Homo sapiens: one gene and its partners. The protein of the gene in region 3 interacts with the protein of the main gene of each other region in a pairwise test. Each region holds a gene or a part of one and is shown on either strand. Other genes may lie near its edges. The genes, in order: DNAAF6, NME1, PID1 and CPSF7.

Region 1 (7,041 bases), on a different chromosome or scaffold from region 3:
AAGAAAGGAGGAAAAAAAATAGAAGCAAAGTTCCTGATCTCAAAAAATAAAATTTTAACACAAGAATTACTTGTTAATGTTGCTAAAATGAATCAAATTCCACACTCTGGGTTAGGCCCAGATTTTTCAACAAGGTCATTATCAGGATGAAATAAGCAAAAGTAAGGTGGTATCATTGATATTGTTGGTATTGCCACAACTGTTATACAGAAACAGTGACCTGGTAAAGGATGCTCTCCAACATTCGGTAGCGTCATTCAGATAAGAAAGCAAAGTAACATTTTAGATGTCTTTCTTAGTGTTTTTAATCAGAAGTCAGATCCCAAAATTAAGAAAATCCCTTTTTAAGTCCCACATTGTAAGCTGAGTCATTACGAGAAATACAGAAATAAGAGATAAGACAGATGCGGGGAAGGAGATACTTCATTCTGATTGCCTGTCAATTCATCATAAGTTAATAACCAATCAGTTGGCATGCATGGGACGGAACTAGGATGGAAGAAAATCCAGTCCAATCCAATTGGGAAGTTTTAATAGGGATAAAAATAGAAATTGTGTATTGTGTCATATGATTCCATTATGTTTATTTGTAAATCTCATCCAAATGTGTAAACTTAGTTTATTTTGTACAAGTTAACAATTTTAAACTGTCTATCCCATTGTTACCCTAGTACGTGAAACATAGCAACCACGATTTTTAAAGAGTTTACAACCTTGCCTACAATATTATGTAAATAATAGTCAGTCAATTTAGCTACAATGGTTGTATAGAAAATGAAGAAGGGGAGGAGAGGCTTACCACTAGTTCACTGCAACAACCTGTTGAGGAGTCCTTTTTTGACAACCCTAAAAATATATCTTCAGTTCCCACCTGCTGTCTGAATATAATCTCATACCTGAAAAAAAATCAATGATTATAGGGACTCAGATGAAAGAGCAATTTCCTGTCACAGAAAAGAAAACTAGTAACTTATGAGGATATGCTATTAGGTAAAATAAAAGGACTAAACAAATAAAGTGCTTGCAGGTCTTCAGGCATATAATAGAACATAAAGGAAAAGAAGTCTAGAAATGTGGTCAAAATAAACACTGAAAGGCAGGATTGTTATTATTTTCTAAAATAAAGCTTTAACTGTTTCAGAGCTAGACAAATAAAATAGATTGAGGGAACTTGTAATAAGATTCTAATAAGATTAAAAGCAGAAGAAAAAAAAGGAAAGTCTGTTCCTGAAAAACAATAGCTCAGAAAAATACTGAGTCCATAACCTAGGGATTGATAGAAACCTTCCTCTGCCAAGTTTAAACCACAGAGCAGAGGAGAAAATTCAGGTTTAGTACTGTTTCTGTCATTAACTGTGGACCTTGGTCAAGTCACAAACTCATGGGGTCTCAGTTTCTACATTTGTATGATTTATGGGAGGGAGGGGTGAGTTTGAACTGAATGATCTCCACGGCTAAAATTCTACAATAGAAACACTGGTAATGTAGTCAGCACAGCTACACCATAGTGCTTAGAATCTAGTCTTACAGAATTCTGAGTGTAATGAAAGGTTTTCCTGATATTTCACCCCACACATGACAATTCACAAATCATTCCTCCCTCCAAATTTGGGCCTCCAGGAATACAATGGTTTATAGAAGCACCCACCACAAGGTACCCCATCTCTTCAGATAGAATGAAACAAATATTTACAAATTATTATTATTATTATTATTATTATTATTATTATGCTTAATGCTACCTTAATGAAGAAATTGTAGATCTCTGGATAGTAAGACTAAAGGACTTGATTGAACTTCTGACCATTTGCCAATAGGAATGCCCAAAAATAAAAAAGGGATTTCTCTGAGTTTGAACATGGCTAACAATAAGCAGCTATTTGCTATGGGGCACTTTTCTCTTAATAGGCTATAACATCTACCAATTATTTATGAAGGTGAAGCCAGGTTAAAACAAACAGAGGATTGATCTATATGTTCATTGCTCCTAATGGATTTGCTCAAGCTCCTGCTCTTATCCTGAGCTCCAGACGCAATTTTCCAACTGTCTACTACAAAGGTTTGCCTGGATGTCCCAAAGACAACTCAAAGTGTACATATCAAAAACCAGCTAGTCATGGTGGCTCTCAACTGTAATCTAGTGCTTAGGGAGGCTGAGGCAGGAAGATTGCTTGAGTCCAGGAGTTTGAGACCAGCCTGGGCAGCACGGTTAGACGCAGTCTTCACAAAAATAAAGTGTGCACCTGTAGTCCCAGCTACTTGGGAGAGTAAGGTGGGAGAATTGCTTGAGCCCGGGAGGTTGAGGCTGCAGTGAACAATGGGCGGGGCCGGGGGGGCGGTGGTTGGCGAAGAAAAAAAACAAATTTGGTTGGGCACTGTGGCTCAGGCCTGTAATCCCAGCACTTTGGGAGGCTGAGGCAGGTGGACTGCTTGAGGCCAGGAGTTCAGGACCAGCCTGGCCAACTTGGTGAAACCTCGTCTCTACAAAAAACACAAAAAACATTAGCCAGGCCTGGTGGCATGCACCTGTAGTCTCAGCTACTTGTGAGGCTGAGGCAGGAGAATCGCTTGAACCCGGAAGGCAGAGGTTGCAGTGAGCCGAGATCACACCACTGCACTCCAGCCTGAGCGACAGAGCAAGACTCTGTCTCAGAAAAAAGGAAGAAAGAAAGAAAGAAAGAAAAAGAAAGAAAGAAAGAAAGAAAGAAAGAAAGAAAGAAAGAAAGAAAGAAAGAAAGGGAGAAAGAAAGAAAACAAAAACAAACTCACTGCTTCTTCTTAACCTATAATTCCTATCAAAGTTAATGGCATTATCATTTCCTCAGTCACCCAAGCTAATAACTTCAGCATCATCTTTGACGCTCTCCTCTCATCCATTTTATCTAACCAAATACCAACTCTTCATCCAAAACTCACTCAAATAAAGACCCTCATACTTCTCCCCAAGGCCAGTGCCTTAGCTCAGCTCCTTGTTATTCTTTTACTTGGCCACTTGTGATTCTTCTTTTTTGAACTGCCTGTTCATGTTCTTTACCTATTTTCCTCTGCATCCACTGAGAAATGTTGAAATGTATTTTCATAAGGTAGAAGATGAAGATTTTTAAAATCTTATAAAGCAATTTTCCTCATAATAACCTGAAGTTATTATTCATTTAAAGCTTTCATGGATGTTCTATCTACCTAACATCAAACATCAGGATGAAAAGGGAAAAATTACTCAAATTTGAAGTTTGCTGCATATGGATATTTGACATTTGTTAGACAATATGACAAATAAGTGACTTAATTATTACTTTTCATATGATACGTGGACACTATATAAACATAACTTCAAATTTACTCTCTTCGTTCTCTAAGAAATGTTTTAAAATCTCCTTTGATTTTTTATGAGGTTTATGGTCTTGACATTGTTTATTTGAAAGCTGGATACTTCTTTCTAGTTAATTGTCTGCAGTCTCCCACTGCTTCTGTTTTCAGAACTTATGTAGAAGGCAGAAGCATGGAGTTTTTGTTTATTTGCTTGTTTTATACTGGACAATTTTGGCTGGGCGCAGTGGCTCATGCCTGTAATCTTAGCACTTTGGGAGGCTGAGGCGGGCGGATTGCCTGAGGTCAGGAGTTCCAGACCAGCCTGGCCAACATGGTGAAACCCCGTCTCTACTAAAAATACAAAAATTAGCTGGGCGTGGTGGCAGGTGCCTGTAGTTCCAGCTACATGGGAGGCTGAGGCAGGAGAATTGCTTGAACCCAGGAGGGGCGCAGGTTGCAGTGAGCAGAGATTGTGCCACTGCACTCCAGCCTGGGCGACAGAGCAAGACTCTGTCTAAAAAAAAAAAAAAATACTGGATAGTTTTGTATTCAGTATTAGAAAAGTTGTCAGATCACTTGCCATAGAAGTCTTTAAGAATTTATATAGTACATTATAATTTAGTAAGTGTTGGCTTTATTTTTCCTGCTATTCTAAATAGTCAATCCAAATTTTATTTCAAAATACACATATGTAAAGCTTAGTCTATTTGACCAATAATTTAATCTATGTATATAAATATATTTTAAGGTTCTTAAAAGTATGAGTGCTTTTAAAATCAGAATAAAAGGCTTTTTATAATAATTCTAAATTTCATATTTACAACTTGATTGTATTGAAAAGGCTACAAAGCAAGTCTTGAACCCTGCTTGCAAAATACACTGAACACTAAATATAATCTTAGAATATCTAGTAAACAAGTCTGGGTAATAATTGATAATTGGAGAGAGAACATAGCCTTTTACCGAAATTGTGGAACATTGAGTAATTAAAAGCAAGTGCTTGACAAATAAACATGGCATTGTAATTTAGTTTGTATGAATGCTTGCAATTTAATGGGCTGGCTTTCTCCAACTGCTAGTTCCACATTATACAACAAATTGACATTAAATATAAATTTATAATGGAAATGACTATATTTTTCATTTTTGCTAGATAGTAACTGAAAGGAAGGTGTTATGCTTTATTATTTGTTTCTGCTCTAGAAGGAAAAAAATAATCAATTACACATGCCTTCCGTGTGTCACTGTAGTTTTATCTTTTATGTGGTATGTTACTTTATGAATCTTGTAAAAAGTAAAATGTTATCAGATGACACAGCTAACTTAAACTCCTAAAGACATTCCTGGCTTCATTTGACTTACTCTGGGATTTCTCTAACATCCCACATATCATCATATTCTGCTCCTTCTGGAATCTCTTCTGAATTCCAGATGTCCTCATTATTTTCCTCGCTGGTTTCAGGGATGACTGTGAAGAAAGGGAAGATAAAGCTGAAGCTCATGCTTTTTTCCTTCTCTAAATTGCTCCTGTTCTTCTTCACACTCAGTTTGGGTTCATTGAAATAAAACATTATTTGTAATCGCTAGCTTTTTTTTTTGATCAAAACAAACTAAATTAGTAACTACTGACTAAATGTTTCTATCAATACAGAACCAATACATTGTAGAATTTTAATAACAACTGTAGAGAATTTGGCAAAAACATAAACAAAAAGAAGAAAATAATCTACAATCCAACTGCCTGGAGATAATCAATGTTAGTATTCTGTTGTGTATCATTCCAGTCTCTCTCTCTCTCTCTCTCCATATACATATGCAAAGAAATATTACACATTTTTCCAGAAACATAAATAGGATTATATTTAAAAATATTTTTATATAAAAGAAAAAATTACAACTACAATCAATCTGATGTGGAGAGAAATGTCTTATCTTGCATTGTTTTTACTATATAAAAACGCTTTGATATCTTTTCCATGCAAGCATGACATAATTCTCAATAATATCAATTAAAGAAACTGAAAGCAGTGGATACAATGATCATTTTTTAGTCCAGCATTTTCCTCATGCAGAGCTGAGCATGAGGTTGGGTTTCTGCATGTCATCTTTAAATGTTTAAAAATGGATAGGCTCCAGTAGGCATGCAAAAACCCAGCTCACATTTGTTTTAACTATTGTAGCATCCGGTGGAGACCTGCATTAGGTGCAGAGCACTGCTTTGAGTCATTTTAAGCATTCCCAGAAATGCACCCGATTGTTAGGTTTTCAATTCTGGCAATTCTTTTGAAATGATCAGCTTCTATCTAGCACGGGCTTTGTAAAGCCTAACTACAGATTTATATATAACATTTTACATATGAATCATTGCCTTCAGAATTTAAAGATTATTAGACCTACATTATCAGAAATACAGGCAGCACAGAAATACATGAAATGTGAATTAGACTGCCATGGAGCGAATATCTCTTGGGTAAGGCAAATAGCCTCTTGAGTATGTATAGCAATAATAACTGAAATTTTAAAACCATCCTTAGACCTCATTTTAGCCATTATTTTAAACATTTGTCCAGATTAATCTTTTGCAATTAACTAAATTGATGAATGAAATTCACTTCCTCTCCCTTCCTATCCTCTGGTTAATGGTGATCATGACCAACAGAATTAGAGCCTTTTATATTTTTAAAGATTTGTAAAATGTTCAACTCTGTAAAAATGTATAGCTCAAAATGCTGGGGAAATGTAAAAATATTATTTAGCCTTATTTATTGGACTTTTTTTTATAAGTAAACTCAAAGATGTTAATGTATAAGCCTCTTAATGTAAGATAAAATTGTGTAGTTATTTGTTTTATTGTCTTCTCCAAAAGTCTATTAGCTCAATCAGAACAGGGACTTTTTCTGTTTTGATCTGCATTGTAGTATCAGAGATGGTCATACTGCCTGATACAATAGGTTCTCAATAAATATTTATTAAACAATTCAATGAATGAATTCCATGAAATTGCTAGAATATAGGAAGGTAGAAGGTAAAGAAGCTAAGCATCTTGGTAAATAGACCTTAAAAAATAAAAAATGATCTAACCACACGTGACTTTCTTGGTCTTCTATCTCAGAAAATATGCAAGGAATGTGGATAATTCAAGGCAAATATATTTCCATTATTAGAAAAACTATTTACCTGCAGTGGTAGAGTAAAAACAGCATCTTTATATGTAAATGGCTATTCATCATTTCCATGATTATTTTAGTTCATCTTTTTTCTATTTAAAAATTATTTATTCATTTCTCCATTTTTAATGAACAAATAAAAATTGTATATATTTATGATATACCATATGATGTTCTGAAATATGTATACACAGTGGATGACTAACTCAAGCTGATTAACATATGGATTACCTCACCTACTTATCATTTACTTGTGATGAGAATACTTAAAATCTACTATCTTAGCAATTTCCAAGTATACAATACATTGTTATTTAGTTCATCTTAATAAATACTAGTATTAGTACTTATTACTCTCCCTATAATTTCTCTACCAAGGAAAAGATTATATTGATCTATATTGCTTTGTTAAATAACTTACCTTTGAGCTCTTCTATTTGGGGTGGTCCAATATTCCCAGGACCCATGGCTCCAATAGTAGATAAACCATTTGTCTGAGGGAGGAGAAAAAGTTCAATATTCTGTAATTAATACTTGTATAACCTATATGACTAGTGATACTTTA
Region 2 (6,151 bases), on a different chromosome or scaffold from region 3:
CATGATCATGGTTCACTGCAGCCTTGGACTCCTGGGCACAATCCTCCTGCCTATGCCTTCCCAATAGCTAGGACTAGAGGTGCACAGCACCAGAGCTAATTTTTTTTTTTTTTTTTTGTAAAGACAGCGTCTTGCTATGTTGCCCACCCTGGACTTGAACTTCTGGCCTCTAGCGATTCTCCTCCTCAGCCTCCTGAATAGCTGGGATTAAAGGCATGAGCCATCGTACCCAGCCTAATTTTTCTTTTTTTTTTTTTAGTGAGACAGGGTCTTGCTATGTTACCCAGGCTGGTCTCCCATCTCAGCCTCCCAAGTAGCTGGTATCACAAGCACAAGCCAGCACACCCAGCCCTCATGTTTTCTTTCATTTCTGATGAATCCTCTGCACCTAGTCCAGTCTTGGCCACGTAGCACATGCTCCATAGATGCCTGTTGAATAGCTCAGTGCCAAGAGTGGAAGGGATGCGGGGGTTAAGAAGGGCAGGCAAAGAATGCCTGTGTGTATGTGAGACCTCAAAATAAATCATTTTTATAGTATTTACACTCTCTATTAGGTCAGGTTATTCAGTGTACATGAAAAGAAGGAAAAAAAAGCAATGCAACAATATGAAGTAACCAACTCAATGAATCCTATGCTGGGAGGAAGCATTTTAATCAGATGGTCGGGGATGGTAACACTGTACAGGGAGAACTCACAGCTCCAAGAGCTTCCCTCCAAATTATGATGAAGTTCCTGTAAATAACTAGATTTCCTACAGCCTGGTCCTCTGCCCATGGGAAGGAGGGGAAATGGATGTGAAAAGCAATGTGGTCTGCCCTCCTGTCATTCATAGATCCAGTTCTGAGCACAGCTCGTGTAATCTACCAGTTCCTCAGGGTGAAACCACAAGCCGATCTCCTTCTCTGCACTCTCCACAGAATCACTGCCATGTATAATGTTCCTGGGTGGAGAAAGAGATAGTCACATGACCAAGACCAGAAGGATTAAAATGCGCCCATTGCCAGAAATCTACAGCCACAGCAGCATAAAAGCTGAAGCTCCATGGACATTAGACCATGTTAAAAGAAAAAGCCTACAATGGCCATTCACTTAAGGCTGAAAAATGCCCTCCCCACATCCAGCCCTCCCGGCCACGCTGGTGCAAACAGTGAGAGCCTTCAGGAAAGACTGGCCAGCAAAGTGTGTTGTACCAGGTTCTACACTTCGTGTAACAGAGGTACGACTAAGTGATGTTAACAACCAAAGCCAAACGCCAACTTAAGAGGGAGGAAAACAATAAACTCCGATAAAATCAACCTGCATATGGTATCATGTCTACCTCCAGCCTCGGAAACCCAAATCCTTGTGGCAACTAAATCAGATTTTGGAAAAGGGGGAAAAATACCAAAATCTCACCTGCCAACTTGTATGCAGAAGTCTCCACGGATGGTCCCAGGCTTGGAGTCTGCAGGGTTGGTCTCCCCGAGCATGACTCGGCCCGTCTTCACCACATTCAGCCCCTCCCAGACCTCCAAGGACAGAAGAAGATATGGTCAAAGAAGAAAACCAATCACAGCAGAAAATCTGGCAACTATTAATTCAAAAAAGGAAAAATAAAAAGGCCCCTTAAGATTATATTCATTCACTGAACAAATGTTTATAGAGTATATCCACTTATTCCAGCACTGAGGATCCTGATCTCCCTGCCCTCATGCTTGCCTTTCTACAATGTATTCTCCATACAGCAACCAGAGCAGCCTCCTTAAAATGCCAAGTGTGGGCAGGGCGCAGTGGCTCACGCCTGTAATCCCAGCCCTTTGGGAGGCTGAGGGGAGTGGATCACGAGGTCAGGAGATCGAGACCATCCTGGCTAACATGGTGAAACCCTGTCTCTACTAAAAATACGAAAAGATTAGCTGGGCGTGGTGGCGGGCGCCTGTAGTCCCAGCTACTCAGGAGGCTAAGGCAGGAGAATGGCGTGAACCCGGGAGGTGGAGCTTGCGGTGAGACGAGATGGCACCACTGCACTCCAGCCTGGGCAACAGAGCAAGACTCCGTCTCAAAAAAAAAAAAAAAAAGAAATGCCAAGTGTGAAGTGTCCCATAGCTTCCCAGCACTCAGGAAGTATATGGTCAACACACCCCTAAGAGAGAAGGCCCCTGCCCATGCCTCTGAACTCTTCACCTCCCAACTTCCCTCCCACCCATCAGGCTTCGGGCATTTCAACTCTCCTCCCGTACTTCAAAAAGCCAAGCTCATTCCCACCCTGGGACCTTTGCACATGCTGTTTGCTTGGCTGGAAATGTTTTTCACTGTGATTCTGTACATGGCTGGCTGCTTCTTGTCATTCAGATCGCTGCTTCTTGTCATTCAGATCACAGCTTAAAAATTGCGTTCTTTGATCACCCAATCTAAAGTGATCATTTGCTACTCCTATTCATTTCTGGGCATATTTCATTTCTGAAGCCTATCACTAACCATTAGCTGGTATATGAAAACAGGTATCTATTTGGTCTCATTCATGGCTGTATCCCCAGTGTCTAGAAGAGAGCCTAGCACAGATGACAAGCAATGCATACTTGGAGTATCCCACACAGGCACACTCACCATGGCAACTACCGGCCCTGAGTGCATGTATTTCACCAGGCCGGCAAAGAATGGACGGTCCTTCAGGTCAACGTAGTGTTCCTTGAGAAGATCTTCGGAAGCCTATTCAACAGGACAGAGAATGAGAATAACCCCCAAACCATCTAAGGACATATAATCCATTTAATTTCCCCTCATCCACCCTGCTATGTAAAACATGAGCGGTTGGGCTCACTGATTCTGTTATAACCCAATTCATTCTCCACACTGGAAGGGAGCAGTGACAGGACTAAATGTACTTCTCCAATTTTATATCAGTTGTCTCCCTATTGGCACTGACTGATAATAAAACCACAGAACATTAAAATTAAATCCAGCTATCTCATTTAAAAAAAAATCAAACTCCTGGGCTCAAGTGATCCTCCTGCCTCAGACTCCCGAGTAGGTAGGACTGTAGACACACACTACCAGACTTGGCTAATTTTATTTATTTATTTATTTATTTTGAGACAGAGTCTCCCTCTGTCACCCAGGCTGGAGTGCAGTGGCGTGATCCTGACTTACTGCAACCTCCACCTCCTGGGTTCAAGTGATTCTCCTGCCTCAGCCTCCCAAGTAGCTGGGATTACAGGTGGCGGCCATCATGCCTGGCCAATTTTTGTATTTTTAGTAGAAACAGGGTTTCGCCATGTTGGCCAGGCTGGTCTCAGGTGACCGCAGGTGATCTGCCTGCCTTGGCCTCCCAAAGGGCCGGGACTACGGGCGTAAGCCACCGCGCCCAGCCATACCTGGCTAATTTTAAAAAATTATTTGTAGAGATAGGGTCTCACTATGTTGCCCAGGCTGGTCTCAAACTCCTGGACTCAAGTGATCCTCCAGCCTCCGCCTCCCAAAGTGCTGGGCTTACAGGCGTGACCCACCATGCCTGGCCCTCAACTATCTCATTTTAGACAGGAAAATCAACAATACAATAAATTTCCATTCCCAGAGCAAACCCCAAATAAAATGTTAGAAGGACACCAGGAAGCAAGTCTTGGCATTTAATGAGCAGCAAACTAAACCAGGCCATTACCCAGGGATGCTTCACGTTTATTCAGAGGATAAAAGCCCAGCAGTGATGACCATGTGATTACCAAAGGTATCTGCAAATCACCCAAAAGTGCATGACATCTAGTAATAAATAATTTTGCTGAAAAATGAATTAGAACCTCTCATACTGCAAGGCTAATATGTGGGAACGAATCAAGTTAGCTAGAGAACAAACCATCTGCTTAGCAGTTTCAACTCAGTTTGGCTGTGTTCTCTCTTGTACTGCATATACGCTTGTTAAAATCTAACAGGGTCCCATGGTTTTTCCAGCTCTGTGGTACTGCACTGTATGACGCATATCACACACATCAGAGACACACACAGATGTGGAGACTGGCTGCCCAGAAGCCCCATCATTCAGCCACCAGTTATCATCACTTGCCAAAGTAAAATTACATGGCCATATAATCACTCCGTGGTAGGGATCCAACCCTCGCCCTGTCCTTTCCTATCCAAATGGAAGACTTTTGTTGTGGAAGTCTAACAGACCCTGAGGTGACCTTCCCTTATCAGAATACTTTTTTAATTCTATTAATTGGTTCCAATTATCTTTTTGTTGGTTTTGTTGTTTGTTTTGAGACAGGGTCTTTCTGTCACCCAGGCTGGAGTGCAATGGCATGATCATAGCTCACTGCGGCCTCAAACTCCCAGGCTCAAGCAATCCTCTTGCCTCAGATTCTCAGTAGCTAGGACTACAGGTGTGCACCACTACACCCGGCTAATTATCTTTTTTTGAGACAGGGTCTTGCTCTGTTACCCAGGCTGGAGTGCAGTGGCTCGATCTCCGCTCACTGCAACCTCCACCTCCCGAGTTCAAGCCATCCTCTCGCCTCAGCCTCCCTGGTAGCTGGGACTACAGGCATGCGCCATCACACCCAGCTAAATTTTGTATTTTTAGTAGAGACGGGGTTTCACCACGTTGGCCAGGCTGGTCTCCATCTCCTGACCTCAGATGATCCACCCACCTTGACCTCCCAAAATGCTGGGATTACAGGTGTGAGCCACCACGCCAGGCCCTAACTGATTATCTTTAGTCTGCAAAACAGATCACGGGCTTTTTTTAAGGGCTTGGGGGTTGGGAACCTCAAGTTCTCCCTTGCTTCCTGCCTCCACACCAGATTTAAATGCCCCTTTAGAGTCATGGCAGCTATCCTTCCGTCCATTCTTCACCAAACCCATATATCCTTAATAGGAAATTCAATGTAAAGGAGAAAGTATCTGCACTCAGGGGTCAGAGAGACTCAAGTTAAAATTCCAGTGGCATCACTGTATGCTATCAGGCACATCACTGAACCTCTCCAAGCCTTAGGTTGCTCATCACTAACAACCACGAGAACAGGAGTAAGTACTTCTCAAGGCTGGCATGAAGACTAAATCAGAAAACATATGTGCCCAGCATATGGTAAATGCCTGATCAACAACACATCCATCTCATGTTACCTTCTGCTGTGATCTGAATGTGTCCCCCAAAGTTCGTATGTTGGAAATTTAATCCTCGATGCAACAATGTTGGGAGGTGAGGCCTAATGGGAGGTGTTTAGGTCATGAGGGCTTCACCCTCATGAACAGATTAATGTCTTATCTCAGGAGTGGGTTTGTTATAAAATCAACATCAGCCCCCTCTTGCTCTCTCTCACTCTTGCACTCTCTTGCTATTCCATTCTGTCATGGGATGATACAGCAAGAAAACCTTCATTAGATGCCAGCTCCTTGACCTTGGACACCATATTCTCCTCTCAGCATGAACATCAGTCTACCCTCTTTTACATTAAAGCAGTTTTTCTTTTCTTTTTTTTCTTTTTTTTTGGAGACGGAGCCTCCCAAAGTGCTGGGATGACAGGCGAGTCACTGTGCCAGCCCTAAAGCAGTTTTTCTAAAATATCACATAGGAAGTAAATTGCAAGTCAAACTAAATTTTAAAATGCACTAGAAGGGTCCAAAATTGATTCCCTTTTAGAAAACATACTATCCCCTATTTGATTTGAGAATTGGAATTCTTTTTTTTTTTTTGAGACAGAGTCTCCCTCCCTCTGTTGCCCAGGCTGCAGTGTGGTGCAATATCGGCTCACTGAAACCTCCGCCTCCTGGGTTCAAAAGCAATTCTTTTTTTTTTTTTTTTTTGGAGATGGAGTTTTGCTCTTGTTGCACAGGCTGGAGTGCAATGATGCGATCTCGGTCACTGCAACCTCCACCTCCCCAGTTCAAGCGATTCTCCTGTCTCAGCCTCCCGAGTAGCTGGGATTACAGGCGCATGCCACCACGCCTGGCTAATTTTTGTATTTTTAGTAGAGACGGGGTTTCATCATATTGGTCAGGCTGTCTCGAACTCCTGACCTCAGGTGATCCGCCCGCCTCAGCCTCCCAAAATGCTAGGATTACAGGTATGAGCCACCGCACCTGGCTGGTTCAAGCAATTCTTATGTCTCAGCCTGCCGAATAGCTGGGATTACAGGCACCCACCCTGATGCCCAGCTAATTTTTGTATTTTTAGTAGAG
Region 3 (6,856 bases):
CCAGAACTGTCTTCATCTTGCAAAGCTGAAACTCTGCACCCATTGAACAGTAACTCCTCATTCGTCCCTCCCCCAATCCCCCGGCAACCACAATTCTAATTGGTCTGTTTCTATGATGTTAACTACTCTAAATACTTCATACAAATAGAATCATACAGTACTTGTCTTTTTGTGGCTGGTGTATTTTACTTAGCATAATGTCATCAGAATTCATCCATGTTGTAGTATCTGTCAGAATTTGCTTCCTTTTTAAGGCTGAATAATATTCCAGTATACATTATACATATATACTGTATTTTGTTTATTCATTCATCTATCAACGGACACTTGGATTTCTTCTACTTTTTAGCTATTGTAAATAGTGCTGCTATAAACATGTGTACAATATCTCTTTGATATACATCTTTCAATTATTTGGGGTATATACCCAGAAGTGGAACTACAGAGTCATATAGTAATTCTACTTTTAATTGTTTTTTTTTTTTTTTGAGACGGAGTGTCACTCTGTCACCCAGGCTGGAGTGCAGTGATGTGATCTCAGCTCACTGCAACCTCTGCCTCCCGGTTTCAAGCGATTCTCCTGCCTCAGCCTTCTGAGTAGGTGGGATTACAGGTGCACACCATCATGCCTGGCTAATTTCTGTATTTTTAGTAGAGACGGAGTTTCATCATGTTAATCAGGCTGGTCTCGAACTCCTGACCTCGTGTTCCGCCCGCCTCTCCTTCCAAAGTGCTGGGATTACAAGCGTGAGCCACTGCGCCCGGCCTCTACTTTGAATTTTTTGGAGAACCGCCACGCTGTTTTCTACATGGTATAGAAATTGTACTGTTTTAAATTCCCACCGACAGGATACATGAATTCCAATTTTTCTTCATCCTTGCCAACACTTGTTATTTTCTGCTTTTTTGATAGCCGCCATCCTAACAGGTGCGAAGTGGTATTTAACTGTAGTTTTGGTTTGCATTTTTCTAAGGATGGTAGCATGTTTTCATGTTTTTTTTTTTTTTTGGCTTCAAAAAATATCTATTAATTTCCATTGCCCATTTTTTTTTTCCCCAGGGATTGACATACAGGAACTTTATTTTTTTAAAGCTTTTTTTCAACTTTTAGGTCCAGGGGTACAAGTGCAGGTTTGTTACATGGGTAAATTGCGTGTTGCCGAGGTTTGGTGTGTTAATGGTCCCGTTGCCCAGGTAGTGAGCATGATGCTTGGTAGGTAGTTTTCAACCCTCACCCCCGCAACCCTCCCCCTCCTGGTGGTCCCCAGTGTCTGTTGTTCCCATCTTTATGTCCATGTGTTCTCAATGTTTACTCCTACTTATAAGTGAGTAAGCAAGTGGTAGGAGTAGTCAGAGGGGTTCTTGTGTTGTGATAAGTGTATATAAATTGAGTGAGCCGCTTATTAGTAGAACTGATAATAGCCACTTATTAGTAGAACTGATAATAGGATAATAGGATGATGGCTAGGGTAACTTCGTATGAAATTGTTTGGGCAACAGCTCATAATACGCTCATTAGCGCATAGTTTGGATTGGATGCTGAGAACATGTGGCATTTGGTTTTCTGTTCCTGAATTCACTTCAGACAGTGGCCTCCAGCTATGTCCATGTTGTCGCAAAGGACGTGATTTTGTTCTTTTCATGGCTGCGTAGTATTTATACATGGTGTATATGTACCACATTTTCTTTATTCAGTCCACTGTGGATGCCTTTGCCCATTTTTAAGTTGGGTTTTTTGACTTTTTGTTGTTGACTTTTAGGTGTTCTGTATGTATTCCAGATATTAATTACTTATTACATATATGACTTGCAAATATTTTCTCCCATTGGATGGGCTGCCTTTTTAAATATGTTGACATTTTCTATTTATGCACAATTTATTTGGTGCGTAAACACCACAATTTATTTGCTGCCAAACGATCACAGATTGTCCACATGAGTGGCTGAGATAGTGACACGTTTGCTTTCTGATGGCTCAATTTACACGAACTTTGATGCATAAAGTGATTAAAAATATTGGGTAAAACTAATGGCTATGTGTATAAGGTATATATGAATCATAATCATAAATAAATTTCAGTTCAAACTTAGGTTATCTCCCCAAGATATCTCATTATGTATATGCAAGTATTCCAACATCTGAAAATAGCTGACATTTGAAATACTTCTGGTCCCAAGCATTTTATCTAAGGGATACTCACCCTGTATTGTTAGTTTTTGTCCTGCAATATTATTCCCTCTGCCTCCTCCTGTCCTTTCCCACTGCCTCTGTTCCTAATCCAGGCCACCCTTGCCCGCTGGCTGTGTCTCTGCTATCAGTCAGGCCTCCCCATCCACCTTTCTTCCTGGCATCAGGAAAGTCTGAGTTCACAGGCTCTATCACATCCAGGCACTCCTTGGACCTTGGCCCTTCAGTGGCATTCCAGAGGAGCAACGACGCCCCGATTCCTCAGACCACATGTGGGGCGATCCTGCAAAGGTCAGCCTATTTTTATCCAGAGGTCGTGGACCTCTTACACGGCTTCTGCTCCAGGGCTGTCTTAGGCTACCGCTTTACGTGTGCTCAGGTTAGCACAGCCTCTTTGTCCAAGCTGATTGAGACTTTCTCTACTACTTGCCTTTACTGTTTCCCTCCTCCTTTTTAGCACCTTGACTTGCTGGGCTCCTATGTAGTCTGAGGCCAATGTTTTGAAATCCAATGCCTCTTCCTGAGGCCTTCTGTCATCAGTATGCCACTGCCTCCTCCACTGAACACTCACAGTACTTTGCTGTTCCCCTTCCTGCCCTTTCCACGGCCTGCCTTACATCAGAGTCATAGCTGTGCAGGTGCCAAGGGTGAGAGTTTTGTCCTGGTGAACTGTGGAGCTAGGATTTAAACCTCAACTTCACCTGCCTCAAAGACTGTGCTCTGAATGAGTATTCAATTATTTCTTTCCCGTGGATATTCGGCCCTCCCCAGTTTCATAGCAATCCCCATGCCTATGTGTTATATTGCCATTGTGTATAAGAGGTTCCCAATAAATACTTCTGGAATGTATCACACTTACACATCTTTATTAAAAAGTTATTTTCTTAAAGGGACTACTCTTGTCACAAAGATACAATAGTCCTTAACTTCTGTGTTTTAATTTTTTATATGTGGCCTGTATTGTCCCACTAAATATAACCATTGTTTGGAATCATTCTGACCAAATGTCCCCTCTCAGTTCTCACGGTTTCCACGGACCCTCTTCTGGTCTTTCTCTCCTCGCATTCGTAGTATTTCTATTTGTGTCACTAATTTTAAATGTAAGTATATACTATTTCATATTATTTCTTAGATGATCTCTTAAGTTTTATGCCTTTCCATAATGCCTATGCCCCAATAATAGTAATTCTGTGCATTTTGTGGAATGAATAAAACAATGAAAGGATGAAAATCCCTTCTTGGCATATTATAAACACGCTTTTAAAAAGACAGTATTTGAATCGTTTGGAATTATTTTTCTTAGTTTTCATACTGCCTACCTAGCTAGGTGATAAGCCAGCATTCTACTCTTGATTCTTCTGTAGATCTTTCATTTATTATCAGATCAACAGATGCTCATCAGTTCAAAAACAGTTTAGGTTAAAAAAGAACTGGGCACTGCTGTTATTTTTAAAAATTATCTTGGGAAGGAAAACTATCATGCTTTAGGCCATAATTTCAAGAGAACAGTTTTTGCGTCCTTGGCATTAGAAGCAGGCAGCCTAAGTGAAATCAAACATTGAGAGATTTGGAAAGAGACCCAGGCTAGGAGATAAGTTTAATAAAGATTTTGTTTTTCCAACTCAGTGTCCTTTTGATTCCTTCCTATTATTCAATTCTGTGTGTGTTTGGCCGAAAATAAACTTTGAGTGACTTTATGATGTTAAAGGAATGCCAAATTATGTAAAAGATCATACTCTTCGTTTTAATTGGGGTTTAAAAAAGGAGTAAGGAGAGGGAGAGTAGTTCTCTAGAAATTAGATTTTAAAATCCAACTCTATTCAAATAATTTCAATACATTTGCCAAGTAGGCAACTCATTAGAGAGAAAAGGTAGAAATTTTGATGAGTTATTCTTTCAGGGAGCAAGAAAGAAGTGTCTTCACCTTCCCAATGTGACACCATGACTGTGTGGAACAGCTACTCATTCAGTCTATCAGAACAAAGAGCCTTCTGCTGATGCCTCCCTTTTCTTCCTCTCTTGCATCTGCAGGTTACCTACCTGGGCAAAGTCTCCACCACTGGCATGCAGTTTTTGTCAGGCTGCACAGAAAAGCCAGTCATTGAGCTCTGGAAGAAGCACACGCTAGCCCGAGAGGATGTCTTTCCGGCCAATGCCCTCCTGGAAATCCGGCCATTCCAAGTTTGGCTCCATCATCTCGACCACAAAGGGGAGGCCACAGTGCACATGGATACCTTCCAGGTGGCCCGCATCGCCTACTGCACCGCCGACCACAACGTGAGCCCCAACATCTTCGCCTGGGTCTACAGGGAGATCAATGATGACCTGTCCTACCAGATGGACTGCCACGCCGTGGAGTGCGAGAGCAAGCTCGAGGCCAAGAAACTGGCCCACGCCATGATGGAGGCCTTCAGGAAGACTTTCCACAGTATGAAGAGCGACGGGCGGATCCACAGCAACAGCTCCTCCGAAGAGGTTTCCCAGGAATTGGAATCCGATGATGGCTGAATGAACTTGAGACGCTTCAGCAAAGGCAGCATTGGTCACGGAGTTCAAGGGAATAGATGAGTAAGCAACGTTTCAAATTTGGGATGAAAAGACTGCCAAACTATTGGCTGACCAAGGTTTTTAAATTCAGAAGAGCAATTCTAAATCTAAAGAAATGTATCATTAAAGTAATTACGTTACATTGAAACCTGCTGCTGCTGTGACTGTGAGGAGGGTGGGAGTGTGGATGGGGAGGAAGGTTCTAGGCTCTCTTATTTTTCTCATTTCCCAATGCCTCTCTGTGGGAGAGCTCCATGCCAGTTTTCACCACGCTCAGGCAAATACTCTGCAGCTGTTATTGGATGGGCCATTCCGATCTGCCTTATGAAATTCCACAAGAATGTTAGGGGCACCTATGGGATCTCTAGTGGGGTGGGCAGGGTGCTGATGGGGACGCTGGCCGCAGGGAGGAAGGAACATCTCGGGAGGGCCCTCTGTTCCTCTCCCACGGCAGATGCCCTCCTCTGTATGCAAATCAGCACAGCCTTTATTGAGCTTTACAACTAACAACCTGATAGTTGGCAGTTAATTCACAGTTACAGATAATGCTTTTATTTACATAAATATACCAAGTAGTACCCTCTTATTGTATTCACTTCATCTATTTTCTTAGAATACTTGCAATTACTAATGACCCCTTCCCTTTCCCTCCTGCTGCCCTGTCCACCCTCTTTCCCCTTCTAACATCCTTAGAGGGATGAAATCTCAGCATATGTTGCAGGACACCAAAAGGAAGAAAACAATCAAGCAAATAAAATAAACAGTCAAACAAACCAGGAGTTTAAAACAACAACCCCAACAACAGAAGCCTTGGCAAAGAGGAATAAGTGATCAGCAAGTGAACACACTCTATGTCAACTCTCCTTTTATCCAGCTGAGATTTATGGTAACTTATTTAATTAATGGTCCTGTCTGATGCATCCTTGATGGCAAGCTTCAAATCTGATTTGGTATCACCGAGGAAACCTTGCCCCCATCACTCAGCATTGCACTTAGATACAGAATGAGTTAGATAAACTTGGCTTGTCTAGAGACCCATGTCATCTTAACCTAAAGGGAAATCTTATTGCGTTATCATAAAATTGATGATATCTTAGGGTCAGAATTGCCCTTTTTTTTTATTTTGAATGGGAAGTTCTCACTAAAACAATCCTGAGATTTCTTAATTTCATGGTTCTTTAAATATTATAAACACAGAGTCAACATAGAATGAAATTGTATTTGTTAAAATACACACATTGGAGGACAAGAGCAGATGACTACTTTTCGAAGTAATGCTGCTCCTTCCTAAAAGTCTGTTTTCAATCCTGGTAATATTAGGGGCACTGCGGCACCTAAGAAGCCTTAAATGAGAGCTAATCCAATCTAGAGAGCGATGGTGTCAGCATTTCGGTCTGCATATCTGTGTGTCCGTATCTGCGTTTGTGTGCGTGTACGTGTGCCCCTGTGTGTGGGCCCAGTTTTCAGGCATGTAGAATAAGCATGGAGTCATATTGAGGAGGACTCACTTCTTGAAGATATGCTTGTTGCTTTACAACATATGTAAGCTATTCTTTAGCATAAATGCATTCATTCTTTAATAAAAATATGTTTGCATTAATAAAGCTGAGGAGTTTCATACTTTGTGTCTGTCCTTTTTCAAGTAATAAAAACATGAAGAACAAATTAGATCAAATAGTTCTATCAAAAAATATATTTAAACTGGGTCATAAATAACCTATTCCTGGATTGCGTTTAAAAATCTTGTTTTATTTTCTAAATGCTCAATTTGTTTTTAATTTTTGCATGCCCCTGAGATGGTGAAGTGGCAATAGTTGAAATAGTTCTATAGTATGGTGGGTTTGTTTCAGTGCGGGGTCTTCCAGAACATGTTGCAAATGATTGCTATTTACAAAAATCTCGTGTATGTCTTTGAAGAACCTAGACTGAAATCCTGGAAGGTAAACACTGAGTGATTTTTTTTCTGATGGGACTGGTTAAAGAATGTCTCCTCCAGGCTATGATATCTCAGAATGGCCCCATTAAACAAGCAAGACAGGTGGCCATGGAGCCTATGTTTTTTGAGCAATGCCCTTCATGGAATCAATAACAAATATAAAGGCTTCCAAAGTAAAAATATAG
Region 4 (3,788 bases), on a different chromosome or scaffold from region 3:
AAACTGAGCTTTCTCTTCAATTTGGATCGAATTCAAAGATTCAGAAGCCCTAATGGTATGTAATTGAGTGCACTGAGGGCTTCAGTTTTCCCTTAGAGAAAATGGGACAAATACCAGCCTGCGTAGGTGTTTAGACAGGCCAGGAAGGCTTAGGCCATATAGATTCTGAGGACCCAAGCTGAAAATAGTGTCATTTCGGTGTGTACAAGGATCAGGGAGGACGTAGATGTCTCCTCTAGGTTTTATAAGGCCACTTTACAGAAGTAGTTATATAAAAGGTAAACATTTGTGCGTAGGCTGTGTTGCCAGTTTGGGCATTAGGAGAAATTCTAATTCCTCATTTTCCCTTTGGCTATTAATTCTGTTTAATATGCTCAGACTGACCATACCACCACCCGCAGATGGGTATTGCAGCATTGGAACAGGTGCTGAGTATAGTAGGAACTTTGTTTGGTGGCCATGTGACAGGTGGCTTAATAGACCCTTTTGGGTAAAACTTCTTAACTGCATTTAGGTTTCTTCCATGCTCTGCTTTCTGTTCTGGCCTGGCCACGTGACTCCTGCTTAGTGTTAGTATGTTTCCTGGTTCCTCACCTATGGCTGTCATGCGAGGAAAGACTTAAAATCTCGAGTTTTAGTACACTTGGAAAACCTCTGGGGCTGTGTTTGTGTACACACATACTCATAAAGGCACTTTTAGCCAGGACTCCTTTAAAAAGAAAAAAGAAGGATTTAAGAGTTTCCTGTGTATGTGCATCCTGCCTGCTAGGGCCTCTTGGGTGTTTGGGGATTAATGGATTTGGTTGTGTACATACTTGTTTTCTTACCACTAAACCTCCCATTTCCAGATTTTTCCCCCTCCCCTTAAGGTAAGCTATGACTTGCACAGAATAGACTTCTTAACCTATATTTAAACTCACCTTATTCCCTTTTAGCAACTTTTCTTGAAATATGTCACAGTTTCCATACTTTTGCAGCCAAAGTCTCCTTTTCAGTCGAACGTTCAGAGACCTCATTTTGTTCTGTTTTTTCACCGAATCTTTATAGTGGATGTCACTGCTTTTTTTCTCTCTACTCACAGTAGCTTCTCCTCCAGCCATTCCTCACCACTTCTAGTGTCAGACAGTCCTGCTTTGTTTTCCCAGACTTGCATTCTCTGTCTGCATTCCTTACTTCTTATGTTGTAGCGTTAGAATATGTGTGTTTTATATAAGCCCCTGTCATTCAGAAAGTAACCTCTAACTTGTGTTTTCTTTCTTTTCTTCTGATGTTCTCATTGCAGGAGTCTGGTTGGAAGCAAATGTTTTTTTAATGGACTTGCATCTCCTCACCTTGATCAGGACTAAAGGACGGAGGCCGCCCCACCCCCTTCCCTTTCCTCCAAACCCCTAACTCCCTCCAGACACCCAGGGAATACCCTCTGCCCCACAGGATTGAAGACTGCTTGGCAGTCCTCCCAATCCCACACCTCCTGTTTGCCAGGGGAAAGAACCTAAAGACTTCGTGTGATTGGGAGGGGTGGCAGACAGGAAGAAAACATGTCCAGGCCCCTGGTCTCCATAGAGAATGGTGCTTTGTCCAAGAAAACGTATGAGTTTCTGATTCTCCGGGAGCCGTTCAATGGTGAGGTTGATGGGAAGACTTCCTTCCCAAAGAAAATAGATCCTCCATGCAGGATCTAGGAGAGTGACTGGGTGTGCCAAAATATGCCCAGGGTCCTGCCCTCAGCACTAGATTTAATGGGGCCAAGAGGGTCCAAACCCCTTGCTAACATACCACTTCTTTGTTTAACTCCTTTACCTTTCCAGCCCTTTGAGGAGGGACCATGAGAACAGAAATTACCTTATGAAAAGCTACTTCTGTTCCTGCTTTCCCTCTCACGTATTGACGGTTTATTTCTTTGACCTCCCAGAGGGCTGAACTCTTTCAACTCTGCGCTGCCCAGCCTTCTCAGTGGACTTGCCCCTCCTAAGCAGAGAAGGCCTATGAGGTTGCTTGCTGCTGGGAAGCCTGGCAGAGCCAATTACCACCCTCTGCTGCTTAGTGCTTGGGTACCTCTTGCAATAACCAGCTCTTAGTTGTTCCCTTTCCCTGGGGCTTTTCCATTTAACACATGGAGCCCTTCCCCCAGAAGGCTACTTCCTTGTTTTAGAGGAAGGTACTGCCCATTGGGAGATGGGGACATTGGGACCTCAGCAATGAAGAACCCTTGTGAAGTAACCAGGAGGAATGGGGAAAGAAGCAAGTTGGGCAGGATATGGCCTACTTCCATAGGCTTTTCTTTTTTCAGGTTTGATGTAAGCATGGGCTTACATCCCCCAGGTACATACTTTTACTTATTGTGGGATAACCTGGCACTAGTAGGCAGGTAAAGTCACAAATTTGGTGTCTTTTCACCTTTTGACTGTTGACTTAATAGCTCCTCTCACTCTGCCTGGAGATACTTCCTGCCTCAGATGAGGAGCCAGAAGAAACAGAGCCCGACTTGAATGAACTCAGCTCAGAGTTCTAAGGACCAGCATTCTGGGGGCCATTTTCTCTACAGGCAAATGGAATTGCTTTTCCATAACATCCAAATTGTAATGTGGTTGCTGCTGAAGGAGGAGGCAGCAGCGAGGTCCTGCGGTACCCATGGGGTGATGCTACTTCTGCATGCATCTACAGGGCATCTGACACCTAACATGAGACGTGGCATGTGAGATGAGACTTGGCATGTGAGACATAGGGTCACTAGAGACCCTTCTGGGTCAGAGGAGAGAGACTGAATTGGACTAAACCCGTCCTCTGTTCCCAGCACGTTTCTCATATAGCCCTCAGTCACTGAGGGAGTCCCCCGCAGGATTGGAGAGGCACATTCCCTTGGGACAGAGGCTACAGGTTGGAGCTTTTTTTCCCCTGTCCCCCAACCCCATCCCCACCTCCACTTCAGAACATGGCACCCCACCCAACTGGCCAAGTGTTAAGTGATGTGCTTATTGAGAGCAACTCCGGGTGTCTTTTAAAATGTAGAGAAAAGGTGACAGTTTAAGGAAAAATATATATAGAATACCAGAAATGCCGTTTACCCGGAGAATTTTTTTCTCCCCATTTGTTTTGTTTTTACTCAATGACACCATTTTTAGTTTTATTTCCTGATAGCAAAAGGAAAAAAAACACCCATCCCTCAAAAAGGCCAAGGTCCCGTCCCCCTGTTGTCGGTGATTTGTTTGTCTTTCTGATAGGTTGAAAATTGTGTAATAAACTTGATGACGCTGTCAATCTTTTATACTGCATTGTATTTTTTTCCTTTTGTAACAAAATATTTTTAAATAATAAATGGGGTGTGAGCTGTTTTATGGATTCTGCATTGAATAGATTTGTTGAGGTGTCTGGGGCATGGGCATGGGCTGATGTAGACACTCGAATGATGGTGAAATGCCAAGTTCTTAGCTAGGATTGCATGTCAGGCAGTGATACATGGCTTTAGTTGACTGTGGAAAGCCTCCTAAGAGACCTCTAATGCAAACCTTTGGAGGCATCCCTTAAGGTTTAGCTTTTTTCCTTGGCCATCTAAACAGCTGGTTAAAGAAAACTTCTAAGTTATCCTTTACCCTTCAAGATTCCTAAGACTTATTTTCAGAGCAAATGTTCTACCTTGTGCAGTTAAATTCCAGTATCAAGTTCAGGAAGGGAAGAATCCTTTGATAGGAGTTAGAAGATCTGACTGGTAGTGCCTAGTTTACCACCTGTTTATCTAAATATGGACAAGCAGTGTAACCCTGGTCTTTTTCACCTACAAAATGAAAATA

Evidence for each region.
Region 1: the proteins of PID1 (region 3) and DNAAF6 interact in binary tests that used the Homo sapiens proteins (3 or more experiments, as listed by UniProt).
Region 2: the proteins of PID1 (region 3) and NME1 interact in binary tests that used the Homo sapiens proteins (3 or more experiments, as listed by UniProt).
Region 4: the proteins of PID1 (region 3) and CPSF7 interact in binary tests that used the Homo sapiens proteins (3 or more experiments, as listed by UniProt).

What each region holds. Positions count from the first base shown.
Region 1 is NC_000023.11:107,216,600-107,223,640, reverse strand, and holds part of DNAAF6 (dynein axonemal assembly factor 6), read right to left. Parts: intron 6,971-7,041; coding exon 6,898-6,970; intron 4,778-6,897; coding exon 4,672-4,777; intron 897-4,671; coding exon 800-896; intron 1-799. UniProt on the Homo sapiens protein: Plays a role in cytoplasmic pre-assembly of axonemal dynein.
Region 2 is NC_000017.11:51,156,518-51,162,668, reverse strand, and holds the end of NME1 (nucleoside diphosphate kinase A), read right to left. Parts: intron 2,690-6,151; coding exon 2,588-2,689; intron 1,510-2,587; coding exon 1,397-1,509; intron 942-1,396; coding exon 824-941; 3' UTR 501-823; downstream 1-500. Other genes in the region: NME1-NME2 protein, read right to left, coding at 1,397-1,509, 2,588-2,689. UniProt on the Homo sapiens protein: Major role in the synthesis of nucleoside triphosphates other than ATP. The ATP gamma phosphate is transferred to the NDP beta phosphate via a ping-pong mechanism, using a phosphorylated active-site intermediate.
Region 3 is NC_000002.12:229,023,472-229,030,327, reverse strand, and holds the end of PID1 (PTB-containing, cubilin and LRP1-interacting protein), read left to right. Parts: intron 1-4,219; coding exon 4,220-4,696; 3' UTR 4,697-6,355; downstream 6,356-6,856. UniProt on the Homo sapiens protein: Increases proliferation of preadipocytes without affecting adipocytic differentiation.
Region 4 is NC_000011.10:61,402,199-61,405,986, reverse strand, and holds the end of CPSF7 (cleavage and polyadenylation specificity factor subunit 7), read left to right. Parts: intron 1-1,282; 3' UTR 1,283-3,258; downstream 3,259-3,788.